Linked DNA regions of Homo sapiens. The protein of the gene in region 2 interacts with the protein of the main gene of each other region in a pairwise test. Each region holds a gene or a part of one and is shown on either strand. Other genes may lie near its edges.

Region 1 (7,154 bases), on a different chromosome or scaffold from region 2:
ATGTATATACGTGTGTATATACACACGTATATACGTGTGTATATACACACATGTATATACACACATGTATATACGTGTGTATATACACACGTATATACGTGTATATATACACACATGTATATACGTGTATATATACACATATGTATATATGCGTATACACACATGTATGTATATATACACATACATACGTACATATACATATACATACATATGTATATATACACATATGTATATATATATGTATACACACATATGTATATATACATATATATACTGAGAAATATCCAGCAATGGAAGTTGTTACATACACACTTATTGAAAATCCTTTAGCTGTTAAAAATGGTAAATATAAATGCAATGTAGCAACATAAAAATCCTTATGTTATAATGCAAGATGATATAAAACACATATTTATATATATGCATAAAAATGTACACATATATATTCACAAATTCATACAACTGAAAATAATTCACATACCAGTTAAAGTTATATGCCATTTGATTCTGAAATAAATTTCCTTTAACCCTCTTACTCCACATTTTATAAAATGTGTCCAATATCTATACCAAGACTTTTTTTTTCAATTTCCTGGGCATATTTTTCTATGGTCACTTTTTTCACTTATGTTTTAAAATTATGAAAAACATCATACATACAAGAAAATTTATAATGTGTGTTTTCGGTTTAACATGTATCCATCAGGAATCAGAATTTTACTCAGTTGGTTTGATTAAAGAGATATTAGTGAAGACACTACTTAAAGGAGTATGACTAAGAGAACCATCCAGTTGAGTCATCCAGAGTCTAGCAACAGCAGGAAGACTGCGCTCTCTCTAGGCTACATAGCAAAGGAGAAAAGTGTTTCCAGAGCCCATGGAGCTGGAGCCATGGAGAAGGGACTGCTTGCCAAGAGCTGCAATTGTGGAGAAACACAACCACCACCAGATACTCAGCCCCAAACAGAGAAAGAACAGAGAAAATATACCCTGATGTCTTTTTCCTCCTGCCTCCCATCTCCCTGAATGCCTCCCGCTGTCCAAACTCAAATGGAAACCAGCTGAGGAGAGCCCAGGTGGTGCCGTCCAAAGAGGTCAGCTTTGGGGTATAGAACAGGGCAGGGAAGTGAGGAGAATGAATATGATGGAAGGCAAACAGAAAACCTAGACAGTCTAATTGTTTTGTCACCCAGAATTTATTCTTTTCCTTTGCTCAGATGAAGAGCAGCTCATCCCTTACATATGAGAATGACAGAGTCTGACAAGATTTCTCCTCGACCAAACTTTAGTCAGGCTCCTCTAAGCCATCTCCTTGATTAGATATTGACCTTGGGCTGCAGTGTTCATCCTTGCAGAATCAGTGTTGGCAAGAATCCTGCTAAGTCAGTTTAGAGAGGATCTTCCCACCCTGAATGTTTGACCACTCTCAATATCTGATCAAATTCCTTACCCCCACCAGCCCCCAGGTGATGTCTGCTTACCCTGGCCTACCTTTAGCAAGAATCCTGTTAGGTCAGTTTAGCAAGGATTTCCCCTACCCTTGCTGTCTCTTCTTAGTAATTTTCCATCCACGGACCCCACCCCCATCCACACAACCTGCTCCTCGGCTATAAATCCCCACTTATCCTTACTGTATTCAGAATTGAGCCCAGTTCTTTACCAAGGTCTCTTTCCCCCTATTTCAAAAGTTGCTGAATAAAAATCTATTTTTACTGCTACAGCTATTGTCCAGCTTTGATTTTCCTTAACAAGCCTCATCAGCTGCCATATTGCCTTGAGGGGATGTCAGTTCAGGCACATTCTCACCCAGAAACTAAATTGTAATATTTATCTCCACCACTACTCTTTATGCAGGGTAATAGGAAAAGAGAGTCAGGGAAGAAGTAATTAACATTTTAAATGGAGAGCTACTATAATTCCTGCCTCTAGAGCTTGTTGCAAGGCTAAAATTAATAATCATAGCTTCCTACTCATTTACTTATGTATGTTTCCCCTGCCCTATGCCAACACCTAGGTAGATCAGGATTTTTTTATCTGGTATGCTTCAACACTTTAATTTCTTCATGATCTGAAATTTCTGCATTACTTCAGTTATCTGATAATCATTATTATGGCACACGGCAGTATTAAGAAGTGCCCAGTGAATCTCCAGGTGTCATGCATAGTTCTTCTTGCCCTCAATATATAGATGTAACCCAATTTCCTTTTGGTATTTGGGATGAATCATACCATTCTGTCACTGTGAGGAATCAAAGTGACCAGAGGGCAGTTTCAGCTTTCGAATCAATGAATTGAAATTCAATTCAATTCAGTGACGGGGTCTTCTAGTGGCAGCATTCCTTCCTTTGGATCTAGGCTTCCAAACACAATAAACCCAAGGTTGTAGAAATGGTGTGCTGGAATACTATGCAGCCATAAAAAATGATGAGTTCATGTCCTTTGTAGGGACGTGGATGAAGCTGGAAACCATCATTCTCAGCAAACTATCGCAAGGACAAAAAACCAAACACCGCATGTTCTCACTCATAGGTGGGAATTGAACAATGAGAACACTTGGACACAGGAAGGGGGACATCACACACCGGGGCCTGTTGTGGGGTGGGGGGAGGGGGGAGGGATAGCATTAGGAGATACACCTAATGTAAATGACAACTTAATGGGTGCAACACACCAACACGGCACATGTATACATAGGTAACAAACCTGCACGTTGTGCACATGTACCCTAGAGCTTAAAGTGTAAAAACAAACAAAAAAAAGAAATGGTGTGCTGGATATTTTCTATTTCTCCCTCCAGGCATTGTGCCTAGTAGGCTGACCTCTACAGACTACACAGACCTAGCTCCACTGTCTTCTGGCTTCCTGGTGGATCCAGCCAGCGGAAGACCCCAGCTGGATATCAGAGCTGGGAGAACAGAGAGGTGGGTCTTCTCCACTCTGTCCCTGCTTTGGGCTGACGTCTCAGCACTGGCTACAACTATAGAATCTCACCTTACTTGGTGAAAAGTTGGCATTGCTTGCTTTCCTCTACTGAACGACACGGTTCCAGTTGGTTACTCTCTCGTACAGCCACAGCTACCGCTCTCGCTCTCGCCTGGTTTTAGTAACTGCTTCCTTCCCCCACCCCTCAGCCCTATAGTTACTAACAGCTCCCCGCTGTTACTGGTTACTACTGGTTACGGAAGGCGAACTATGTGCCCGACACTGTGCTAAATGCCCACATATATTATCTTTTAGTCCTCACAATCCAATAAATTAGATGGCTTTAGTCCTGTTGCAGAGGTGATAAATTCAGAGTGACAGTGACAGAGCTAGAAATTGAAGGTAGGTGTGTTTATGCTAGAGTCTGTGCACTCAAACACGATTCCTTACTTCTTGCATCAGTTGTTAACCTCCCTTCAAGAGTGTCAAACCTCCTGGTAACCCGCCCATTCCCTTAACTGGAAATGAGGGTGCTGTTGCAATTTTCTCATCCAGCCATTCCACAAATGGTATCTGGAATGTGGGACCCACAGTCCAGAATCCTGAGGGCTGCTGTTGAGAGCATCAAGACGCGCCCAGGAGGTCAGGGCGGTGTGCACTCACACGCTGAGCCTGGAGAAAGTTAGACGCCTTCTCCACCGCTGTGGTGGTTAGCAGGGACTTTCCTGAAGGCCAGAGACTGGTGACGTTCATGCTATTTTTCCAAGCCATTTGGTAGCAAAGAACAGAGTGCCAACAATTCAAGCATTCTCTCAGGCTGGGAGAGAGACGTGGCTTATTCAAGATAGAAATTGCTGGTGAGGTTGAGGCGAGACCGACATCTCTCTGAGCAGCAGGGGAGAAAGACGGCTCTGTTCAAAAAAGAATGGGTAATTTCAGTCAATTCTCTTCTTTCTCGTTTCTGTCTTATCTTTATGACTTTTTAATAGTGCCAATTTAACAGATGAGGGGACAGAGGCCTTTAATTGAGAATTCCACTCCGCTTCCTCTGCCTCATCTCAAAAATCTGGCAGCTGAGTCGCCGCGGCTTTGAATTTGCCTCTTTTGACCTTCCCCTCCCACCTCTGGTAACACTGAGCCTGGCCCGGAAGGACACACCCGGCTTCTGGCGGAAGTGCCGGCTCTTTAAAGAAGCTGAGGGCTGCGCGAATTGGCTGAGGTGCGTCATCTACTGTGTCTGGGCGCCAATCCCGACGCTGGGCGGAGCGAGGCCCGGTCCCTGCAGCGGGCGAAAGGAGCCCGGGCCTGGAGGTTTGCGTACCGGTCGCCTGGTCCCGGCACCAGCGCCGCCCAGTGAGTGAACACCGGCCGCAGGCGGGTGGGGAGAAGGGTCAGCCCGGCCATGTCAGTCAGCGCGATCTCCTGGGCTCCGGGCTTGCCAGGCAGCGCTGGGCGCCCGCTCCTCGTGAGCGCCGGCTCTTGGCTCTCGCACTGCCCCTGGTGCTGATAGGTATTGCCAACTTCGTTCCATTAGAGCGCGTTCTTGTCGCCTGGCGTGGACTCCGGATCTCTCCGTAGCTTTAAAATAGAGTTGAGAAAAACAGGCACAGTGCTCTCAACAGAAATCAGCACACTATTGCGGGGAATACCTAAATTACAGTAACTGGCCTCAGGGAGCAAGGGCGGTGTTAATTACAGAAAACCTCCGGAAGCTGTGGGCTCTGGGCTGGAATTTGCAAGGGGATGTGGCTTAATTTCAATGGGATGCAAATATTGAAAATGACTGTGGTGAGACGATCAGTCATACATTCAGGCAATGTGTCATCTGATCGGGAAATAAGTCAGCGTGGTAATCCCGATGACAGAATTCATGCAATTAATTTTTTATGTCCCCCCAAGTAAAATCAAATCTAGGTACTCACGGGTGACCGGAAGAAAGGTTGTCTGGAACTTGCAGGCACCACTTCTCCTCCCCAGAAATACACCTTCCCATAGTAATCTATAGCTCACCTGAGGCAGGGCTGAAGCATTAAAGACCCCTTCCAAGATCTCAGAAGGAATCAAAGGGAAAATGAAGACAGAGGGATTGAAATCAGCATTCTCTGCAAAACATCACTCTGAGACACAGTGATGTTTAAAATTGTATAAGTAGCAAGACATTTTTTTTTACCCCTGGTGAAAAGTGTTAGAATTTTTAAAAGACTTAACTTATACAAGTGAGTGAAATCAAAGTTATCCCTATTGCAAGGTCAATTTTGCTTATTTTCTGATACATATTTTGTGAGCAAGAGGAGATAGCTGAAAGTGTTCTGGACACCCTACGGAATATTCCCAGACTTTGGGAAATGACTTTGCCAGGAATGGGGAAGTTGGGAAAGGAAAGAATGTTGAAAATACTGAACTCCAGGGTGAAATTTACAAGGTGTGATGCATTTATTTATTCTCAGGTGTGGTTTCCCATAAGGAAGCTCTTCTTCCTGCTTGGCTTCCACCTTTAACCCTTCCACCTGGGAGCGTCCTCTAACACATTCAGACTACAAGTCCAGACCCAGGAGAGCAAGGCCCAGAAAGAGGTAAATCTAAATACTAACTTCCCAGACAGTGTTTCTTTCCCAGATGATTGACATGAGGACTCTCTCTTTTCAGGGGAGATCCTAACCCCTTACAAACAGGAGCACTTGAAAGCACACAGCTCTGTGATATACAGGGTATGTGGAGGAATAGTACTAGAGTACAGTTGTTTTCTTTATAAATGTTTGCAGCAGGTGTAAAAATTTAGTCATCCACTCCTATGTTCAGAAGAAAAATAAGTAATGGCAAGTGGCCTGAGCCACAGTTTTTCTTGTATCTCTCATGCTTTGTGCAAATATTTAGGGGAAGTAGACACCATGGAGACTATCAAGATGGATAATATCTCGCTCCTAACCTCAGGCAGGTTCTGGTCTGCTGTTAGAGATGAGTCGCATGGGACTGTTAGGGTTTGGAGAAAGGAAAGAACTGCCAAATCACCCTGCTGTCAGTGAGTGGCCTCTAACTCTGGTCACAGGGTGCTCGAGTGGCACAGTGGCAGAAGGGGAGGGAAATCTCACCACCTCAGGCCTTTTCAGCATTGTGCCTCTTCATCCTGGTAAGTGGTTTGGTATCCTGTGCTCAGCTTTGAAGCTGACTCTGGCACAGAGCCCTGAAACTCCAGGTGTATCCTTGATCAGAATACAAGGAAGTCACTGAAGTCTTGCTTGCAGCTCCCACTCACCTGGAACCCCATTAGCTGGGCTTCCCACAGAATACTTGGGAATCCTGGCTGTAATGAATTAAGACTGGCCATTCTTACCTGAGGTTCACAACCCTACTCAACAGCCTATTAAAGAGAAAAGGTATCAGCAACATTGTTGAGAAGGGTAGAGCAGTTGTAACTTTCCCCTGAGTTTTGCAGTATTCTGAAATGCAACCAACTAACTCAAGGTCTTCTGTACCCACCCAGTTGGATTAAGAATAAAAATTGGAGTTCTGTCCCTTGTAGAGTTGACAGCCCACTTAAAAACTTACATAAGATAGACACTACTGTGCATTCATCTAAAAAGTACATTTTCCAGGACATTCAAGTATCTGTATGTTTTTCCATTTTTGAGAACTTTAGTACATGCTATCTTGGAGAGAATGAGAGTGAAGCTGGAGGAGGATGGCTAAGGCAGTTAGCAGTGGGTGGATGGAAATAAGGGGCATGTAGGAGAGGGACAGGGATTGTGGTGGGATGACAGGAAGAATAACTGGTCTACTGACCTTGAGACAGCTCAATCTTCTTCTTTTTTTTTTTTTTTTTAGTATTTATTGATCATTCTTGGGTGTTTCTTAGAGAGGGGGATGTGGCAGGGTCATAGGATAATAGTGGAGAGAAGGTCAGCAGATAAACACAAGAACAAAGGTCTCTGGTTTTCCTAGGCAGAGGTCCCTGCGGCCTTTGGCCCTGTTTGTGTCCCTGGGTACTTGAGATTAGGGAGTGGTGGTGACTCTTAACGAGCATGCTGTCTTCAAGCATCTGTTTAACAAAGCACATCTTGCACCACCCTTAATCCATTTAACCCTGAGTTGACACAGCACATGTTTCAGAGAGCAGGGGGTTGGGGGTAAGGTTATAGATTAACAGCATCCCAAGGCAGAAGAATTTTTCTTAGTACAGAACAAAATGGAGTCTCCTATGTCTACTTCTTTCTACACAGACACAGTAACAATCT
Region 2 (7,020 bases):
GAGCCTTAAAACCTCAACCACACCAAAACTGGGGCTGGGAATTTTTTCACACCCTCCTGAACTGTTCAAGCTATTTGTTTTGAGACAGGGTCTTGCTCAGTCACCCAAGTGCAGGGGCACGATCATGGCTCACTGCAGCCTCAACCTGCTGGACTCAAGTGACCCTCTCACCTCAGCCTGCCAAGTAGTATGAGCCACTGCAGTTGACCTAGCTGGGTCTTAAAAGAACTAGAATTAAAATCTGGACATTAATAGTCTTGGTCTTTTAGGATATCACTTTTATGACATTAAAAATGTTGGGGGAGCCAGGGGCGGTGGCTCACGCCTGTAATCCCAGCATTTTGGGAGGCCAAGGCAGGCGGATTGCCTGAGGTCAGGAGTTTGAGACCAGCCTGACCAACATGGTGAAACCCCATCTCTACTAAAAATACAAAAATTAGCCAGGCATGGTGGCACGCACCTGCAATCCCCAGCTACTCGGGAGGCTGAGGCAGGAGAATTGCTTCAACCCAGGAGGCGGAGACTGCAGTAAGCCGAGATCACACCACTGCACTTCAACCTGGGCAACAGAGTGAGACTCTGTCTCACAAAAAAAAAAAAAAAGGCCGGGAGCAGTGGCTCATATCTGTAATCCCAGCACTTTGGGAGGCGGAGACGGGCGGATCACGAGGTCAGGAGTTCGAGACCAGCCTGCCCAGCATGGTGAAACCCTGTCTCTGCTAAAAATACAAAAAATTAGCTGGGCATGGTGGTGCGTGCCTGTAGTCCCAGCTACTCAAGAGGCTGAAGCAGAACTGCTTGAACCCGGCAGGTGGAGGTTGCAGTGAGCCAAGATTGCACCACTACATCCCAGCCTGGGCGACAGAGCCAGACTCCATCTCAAAAAAAAAAAAAAAAAAAAAAAAGGGGGCCAGGCACGGTAGCTCACACCTGTAATCCCACCACTTTGAGAGGCCAAGGTGGGCGGATCACGAGGTCAAGAGATTGAGACCATCCTAGCTAACACGGTGAAACTCCGTCTCTACTAAAAATACAAAAAATTTGCCAGCCGTGGTGTCACGCGCCTGTCATTGTAGTCCCAGCTACTCGGGAGGCTGAGGCAGGAGAATCGCTTGAACTGGGGAGGCGGAGGTTGCAGTGAGCTGAGATCACACCACTGCACTCCAGCCTGGGTGACAGAGTGAGACTCTGTCTCCAAACAAACAAACCAAAAAAAAACAAAAAACACAAAAAGGAGCCAGGTACAGTGGCTCACACCTGTAATTCCAGCACTTTGAGAGGCCAAGGATCACTTGAGCCCAGGAGTTTGTGACCAGCCTGGGCAACATAGTGAGACCTAGTCTCTACAAATAATAAAAAATTAGCTGGGTGTGGTGGTGTGTGCCTTTGTCCCAGCTACTCCAGAGGCTGAGGTGGGAGGATCGCTTGAGTACAGGAGGTCAAGACTGCAGTGAGCCGTGATCACGCTACTGCACTCCAGATTGGACAACAAAGTAAAACCCTGTTTCCAAAAAAAAAAACCTTGGGGAAAGCATTTCTGGCAGCCCTGTAGGGCATCATGGTAACCCAATAAATAGACATTAATAAACATTCCCAAAACCATGTTAAGAAAATGTAAAGTTTATTAAATAAAGATTTTAAGTTTACTACTGCCTCATTTATTTCCTGCCCAGAGTACTGACCTACTATATGTGAAAATCTCTAGCTAATAATTAACAACGTCTGAGTTACAACACAATATGTAATTTGGGTTAATTATCATGACCTATTTACACACACCAAAAATCCTGCTCACTCTTGACCTGCACCTGTGCTAAATTCAAGGCAAATCACTAGTTCAAAAAATACATCTTTAAAGAGTGCCTGTGTCTGGATGGAGCCTTCCTGGTCTTGTACAAAATACCCGGGAGTAAGAACTTTCAGCTATACCCCAAGTTGCTCCCATCTATTAGTGCAATGCTTGTAATTCACAATTCTATGCACAGCTACTGTGTCCCTACCAGTGGGTGCTCCTTTAGGCTGGTTCACCCGGTATCCAAGCCATTACAAGATGGGAGAGGGTGAAATGTAAACCCTAGCAGACCAAGCAGTAAAAAGATGAACGGCTTTGGAAATGACAGGGTGAGTGGGAGGAAAAAGTACAGAGAAAGAGGAGTTCCAAAGCAAAGTGACCACAGAATATATATTTCTCAAACTGCTTGAACTCCCAATAAAATGACTTGGAGCAGTGATGGAAGAAAGACTCCATCCCAGAGAACTGGGCAAGCACTCAGCGTCCTACATTTTTCATGCCAAAAATCTCGTTTTTACTATATTATTTCTTCCAAGAAGCCCTACCTTTAACTGAAAAAGGGATACAGAGGACACCTACTTTCTTCTACTTGGGGACTTTACTCGGTTGTGGAACAATGAACTAGACAGACACTACTTAGCTATGATCTTCATCCTTTTTCTTAGTGAGCAATTTTTGTACAGTCTGATTCAGCAAAACAGAAAACAAAACAATTCAAAGGACCCTGCTCTGGCATCCACTATCTCCGCACAGCCGGGCGCGTGGCGCACCGCAAGGCTCTCTGCACTTTCTTCCTCCCCACGCCTCTCCCTGTATTTGTTCTCAGAGCTCTCAAATGGTCAAATGAGCTTGCTCAAAACCAACTTACCACTATATCAAAATCTGTTCCTGTCTTTGTTGGAATAGGAGTTCAATCTTCCCCAGTACTGGCTGTACTTGAAACTTGCTCTCCACAATCAAAATTTGCCCAATTCCTGATTATCAGCCAGAAAGCTGCTTTATTTGCAACTAAAATATACCTTTAACTTTATATGGACAACCTAAAATTCTGGCTCTAGCTGTGTGTGAGGGGGGACATACAGAGGTGAGAACAGGCCTTCTTTGGTCCCACACCCTCCACCCTCCAATATCCTTACCTCTTGGGCAGGTGAGCGAAGGGGTCCTTGGCCTTGGGCTCAGCAGCCAGCGCCTGCTCACATTCATCCATCTCCTCCTCAGGAGCAGGGGCAGCCGCCTTTTTCTCCTCCTTCCGCTCAGCCTGGGGCTTCTGCTTCTCTTCCCGTGAACCCTTCTCTTTCCGTGGTGTGTCCTTTTTAGGTTGGGTCTCTGCAAACTTTTTAGCTGGTGCAGAGGAAGGCAGGAAAGTGAACGAATGTTCTGCCTCTTTCCACACCCCTCCAAAACCACACAGAGCAAGCAAGGTAACAGAGGAAACTGACGAATGGGACAAGTAAGGAACTTAGGCCCCAGACTGCTCATCAGTTCACTGTGTGTCCTCCAGCAACAACACACTCAGCAACAAATACTTTATATCGCAAATCTATATAGTAATACAAATTAGTCAGGGTATGAGTGTACACGAAACTGCACATAATATTAGCTACCACATTGACACCCTACATTCTGCAGGTCCCCATAACCCAAAAGCAAGACAGGAAATCAAGGGGTTGATGCAGAGCAAACCAGACCCTGATCCTGGCCATATGCCTCCCAGTCTCCTCAGACTCACCATCAAACTGGGCCATCTTCTCACACAGTTTCACTTCGCCCAAGACAGCCCGGAACTGGGGCTGGTTAATGCAGGTGAGGAACCAGCGGTTGGTATTGGGAAAGGCCTGGCGGAAAGAAGGCTCTAGAACCTGCCAGGACATAAGGGTGTAAACAAAGTCAGTGGAAAGGCCCTGAAGAGTTCTGTTCACAGCAAGAGTCCTTGCTCTACCTAAGTCCCAGTGCTCACCTTCTTTTCAAACCCTATAGACAATAGCTTCATACAACATCATCCTTCCCTGGATTACTTCCCATTTCTTCATTTTTTTCAATTTTTTTTTTTTTTGAGACAGAGTCTCACTCTATCGCTCAGGCTGGGGTGCAATGGCGTGATCTCAGCTCACTGCAGCCTCCATCTCCTGGGTTCAAGTGATTCTCGTGCCTCAGCCTCCCATGCCTTAGCCTTCTGAGTAGCTGGGACTACAGGTGCCTGCCACCACACCCAGCTAATTTTTGTACTTTTAGTAGAGATGGGGTTTCGCCCTGTTGGCCAGGCTGTTCTCGAACTCTGACCTCAAGTGATCCGCCCACCTCGGCCTCCCAAACTGCTGGGATCTCCGAGGCGGGCGGATCACGAGGTCAGGAGATCGAGACCATCCTGGCTAACACGGTGAACCCCCATCTCTCCTAAAAATAAAAAAATTAGCTGGGCGTGATGGCGGGCAGCTGTAGTCCCAGCTACTCGGGACGCTAAGGCAGGAGAATGGCGTGAACCCGGGAGGCGGAGCTTGCAGTGAGCGGAGATCGCGGCACTGCATTCCAGCCTGGGTGACAGAGTGACTCTGTCTCAAAAAAAAAAAAATTAGCTGGGCGTGGTGGCACGTGCCTGTAGTCCCAGCTACTCCAGAGGCTGAGGCAGGAGACTCACTTAAACCCAGGAGGTGGAGGTTGCAGTGAACCGAGATCACGCCACTGCACTCCAGCTTGGGTGACAGAGTGAGACTCTGTCTCAAAAAAAAAAAAAAAAAAAAAAAATTTTAATAGAGATGGGGTCTCACTATGTTGCCCAGGCTTATCTTGAACTCGCATGCTCAAGCAATCCTCCTGCCCTGGCCTCCTAAAGTGCTGGGATTACCCGTGAGCCACCACACCTGGCCTCCATTTCTTTTTCTAATCTTTTTTTTCAGTGTAGTCCAGTTTAATGGATGGATGCTTGGGTCCATCCTCCATTTAGGAGTAGGAGTAATAATTGTCTTGCTCCTTTACAAAACTATTTCAGATCTACTGTTTCCAATCTTTTAAATTTCAAACGTCGGCCAGGAGCGGTGGCTCACGCCTATAATCCCAGCACTTTGGGAGGCCGAGGCGGGCAGATAACCTGAGGTCAGGAGTTCGAGACCAGCCTGGCAAACATGGTGAAACCCCGCCTCTCCTAAAAATACAAAAATCAGCCAGGCATGGTTGCACATGCCCGTAATCCCAGCTACTCAGGAGGCTGAGGCAAGAGAATCACTTGAACCCGGGAGGCAGAAGTTGCAGTGAGCCGAGATCGCGCCATCGCACTCCAGCCTGGGGGACAAGAGCGAGACTTCGTCTCAAAAAAAAAAAAAGATTGAGACCCACAGAGGGCTATCGAGGACTTTTTTGCCAAATAAAATCTAAACACTATAGGTATTTACTATCTATATTGGCCATACTATACACACACGCACACACACACACACACCCCCCACACCCACCCATCCATCAAACTTCAGAAAGTAAAGAACATTCAAAGAAAATATTCAAACGCATTTAGAATAATGGACAGTCCTGGCTGGGTGTGGTGGCTCACCCCCGCAATCCCAGCACTTGGGAGGCCGAGGCGGGTGGATCACCTGAGGTCCTCAGGAGATCAAGACCAGTCTGACCAACATGGCAAAACCCCATCTCTGCTAAAAATACAAAATTAGACGGGTTTGGTGGCGCATGCCTGTAATCCCAGCTACTTGGGAGGCTGAGGCAGGAGAATCGCTTGAACCTGGGAGGTGGAGGTTGCAATGAGCCAAGATCGTGCCACTGCACTCCAGCCTGGGTGACAGAGCAAGACTCTGTCAAAATAAATACATAAATAAATAAATAATGGACAGTCCTTCAAATTAAACTTAGTGTCTGGTGTATTAAGCATGGTCAAAGAAAAATAAGAATAAACAGCTTCAGGTAGAACTGTTGTCAGTTTTCAGTTTGCAAAGCTTCAGGTAGAACTGTTGTCATTTTTTAGTTTGCAAAGACCAGAAGAGGAAAAAAAATCTTGTCATGGAAACAGAACACAGCAGTCAGAGTGCTGGTTCCACAGTACTTGGGTTCAAATTCTACTCTACCACTTAGTAGATTCACTCACTAAGATGATCCCCATGAGGCCCCTGGCACAGGGTCTGGCATGCAGTAAGTGTTTTTTCTTTTGCTATGATCACATTACTATTCTGGACCAGCATCAGTCCAAGAGCTTTTATTTGGAAACCAGTGACTTGTCATTCTTTTTTGACCCAATAACCTTGACAGTGATTATTACTACCCTGATTTTATAGATTGCAAAGAGTAAAAAACAGGACTAAAGGAATTCACCCGCATATAACCCCTTACCTACATTGGTAAACAATGAAGCCAAGGCTTGAACCTGTATCTGTCTCCAAAAGAGCTTAAAGAGCTTTTTTTTTTTTTTTGAGATGGAGTCTCGCTCTTGTCCCCCAGGCTGGAGCACAGTAGCTGGATCTTGGCTCACTGCTACCTCCACCTCCTGGGTTCAAGCCATTCTCCTGCCTCAGCCTCCCAAGTAGCTGGGATTACAGGCTCCTACCACCACGCCCGGCTAATTTTCGTATTTTTAATAGAGACAGGGTTTCGCCATGCTGGCCAGGATGGTCTCGAACTCCTGACCTCAAGTGATCCACCCGCCTAGGCCTCCCAAAGTGCTGGGATTATAGGTGTTAGACACAGTGCCTGGCCTGCCTCCAAAAAGATCTTAATGCTGAAGCTACCATCATCACCTCTGTCTTCACAACTAAGAATAACCAATCTTCCCAGGAAATATGGCAACAAACTAAACATCTTAGCTGCCAAACAGAAACTAAAGGCAAGACATTACCCAGCTTCTTAAGAGAATGGAAAGCAAGTGATGGTACTCAGTCCTGGGATTCCTGGCTGTTTTTTGTTTGTTTTGACACGAAGTCTCACTCTCACCCAGGCTGGAGTGCAGTGGGGCGATCGCTGCTCACTGCAACCTCCACCTCCCAGATTCAAGTGATTCTTGTGCCTCAGCCTCCCAAGTAGCTGGGGCTATAGGTGTGCGCCACCACACCTGGCTAATTTTTTGTATTTTTAGTAGAGACAGGGTTTTACCATGTTGGCCAGGCTGGTCTCAAACTCCTGACCTCAGGTGATCTGCCTACCTCGGCCCCCCAGTGTGCTCGGATTACAGGCATGAGCCACTGCACCCACCTCTAGCTGTTTTCCAAGTCCTCAGCAGAATACAGGGTAACCTA

What was found. Proteins that work in one complex are often made in the same cells at the same time.
Region 1: the proteins of EEF1G (region 2) and PLGRKT interact in binary tests that used the Homo sapiens proteins (3 or more experiments, as listed by UniProt).

What each region holds. Positions count from the first base shown.
Region 1 is NC_000009.12:5,434,910-5,442,063, reverse strand, and holds the start of PLGRKT (plasminogen receptor (KT)), read left to right. Parts: upstream 1-4,138; 5' UTR 4,139-4,275; exon of another isoform or gene 4,276-4,432; intron 4,433-5,369; 5' UTR 5,370-5,495; intron 5,496-7,154. UniProt on the Homo sapiens protein: Receptor for plasminogen. Regulates urokinase plasminogen activator-dependent and stimulates tissue-type plasminogen activator-dependent cell surface plasminogen activation.
Region 2 is NC_000011.10:62,563,878-62,570,897, forward strand, and holds part of EEF1G (elongation factor 1-gamma), read right to left. Parts: intron 3,652-7,020; coding exon 3,522-3,651; intron 3,195-3,521; exon of another isoform or gene 3,134-3,194; coding exon 2,929-3,133; intron 1-2,928. UniProt on the Homo sapiens protein: Probably plays a role in anchoring the complex to other cellular components.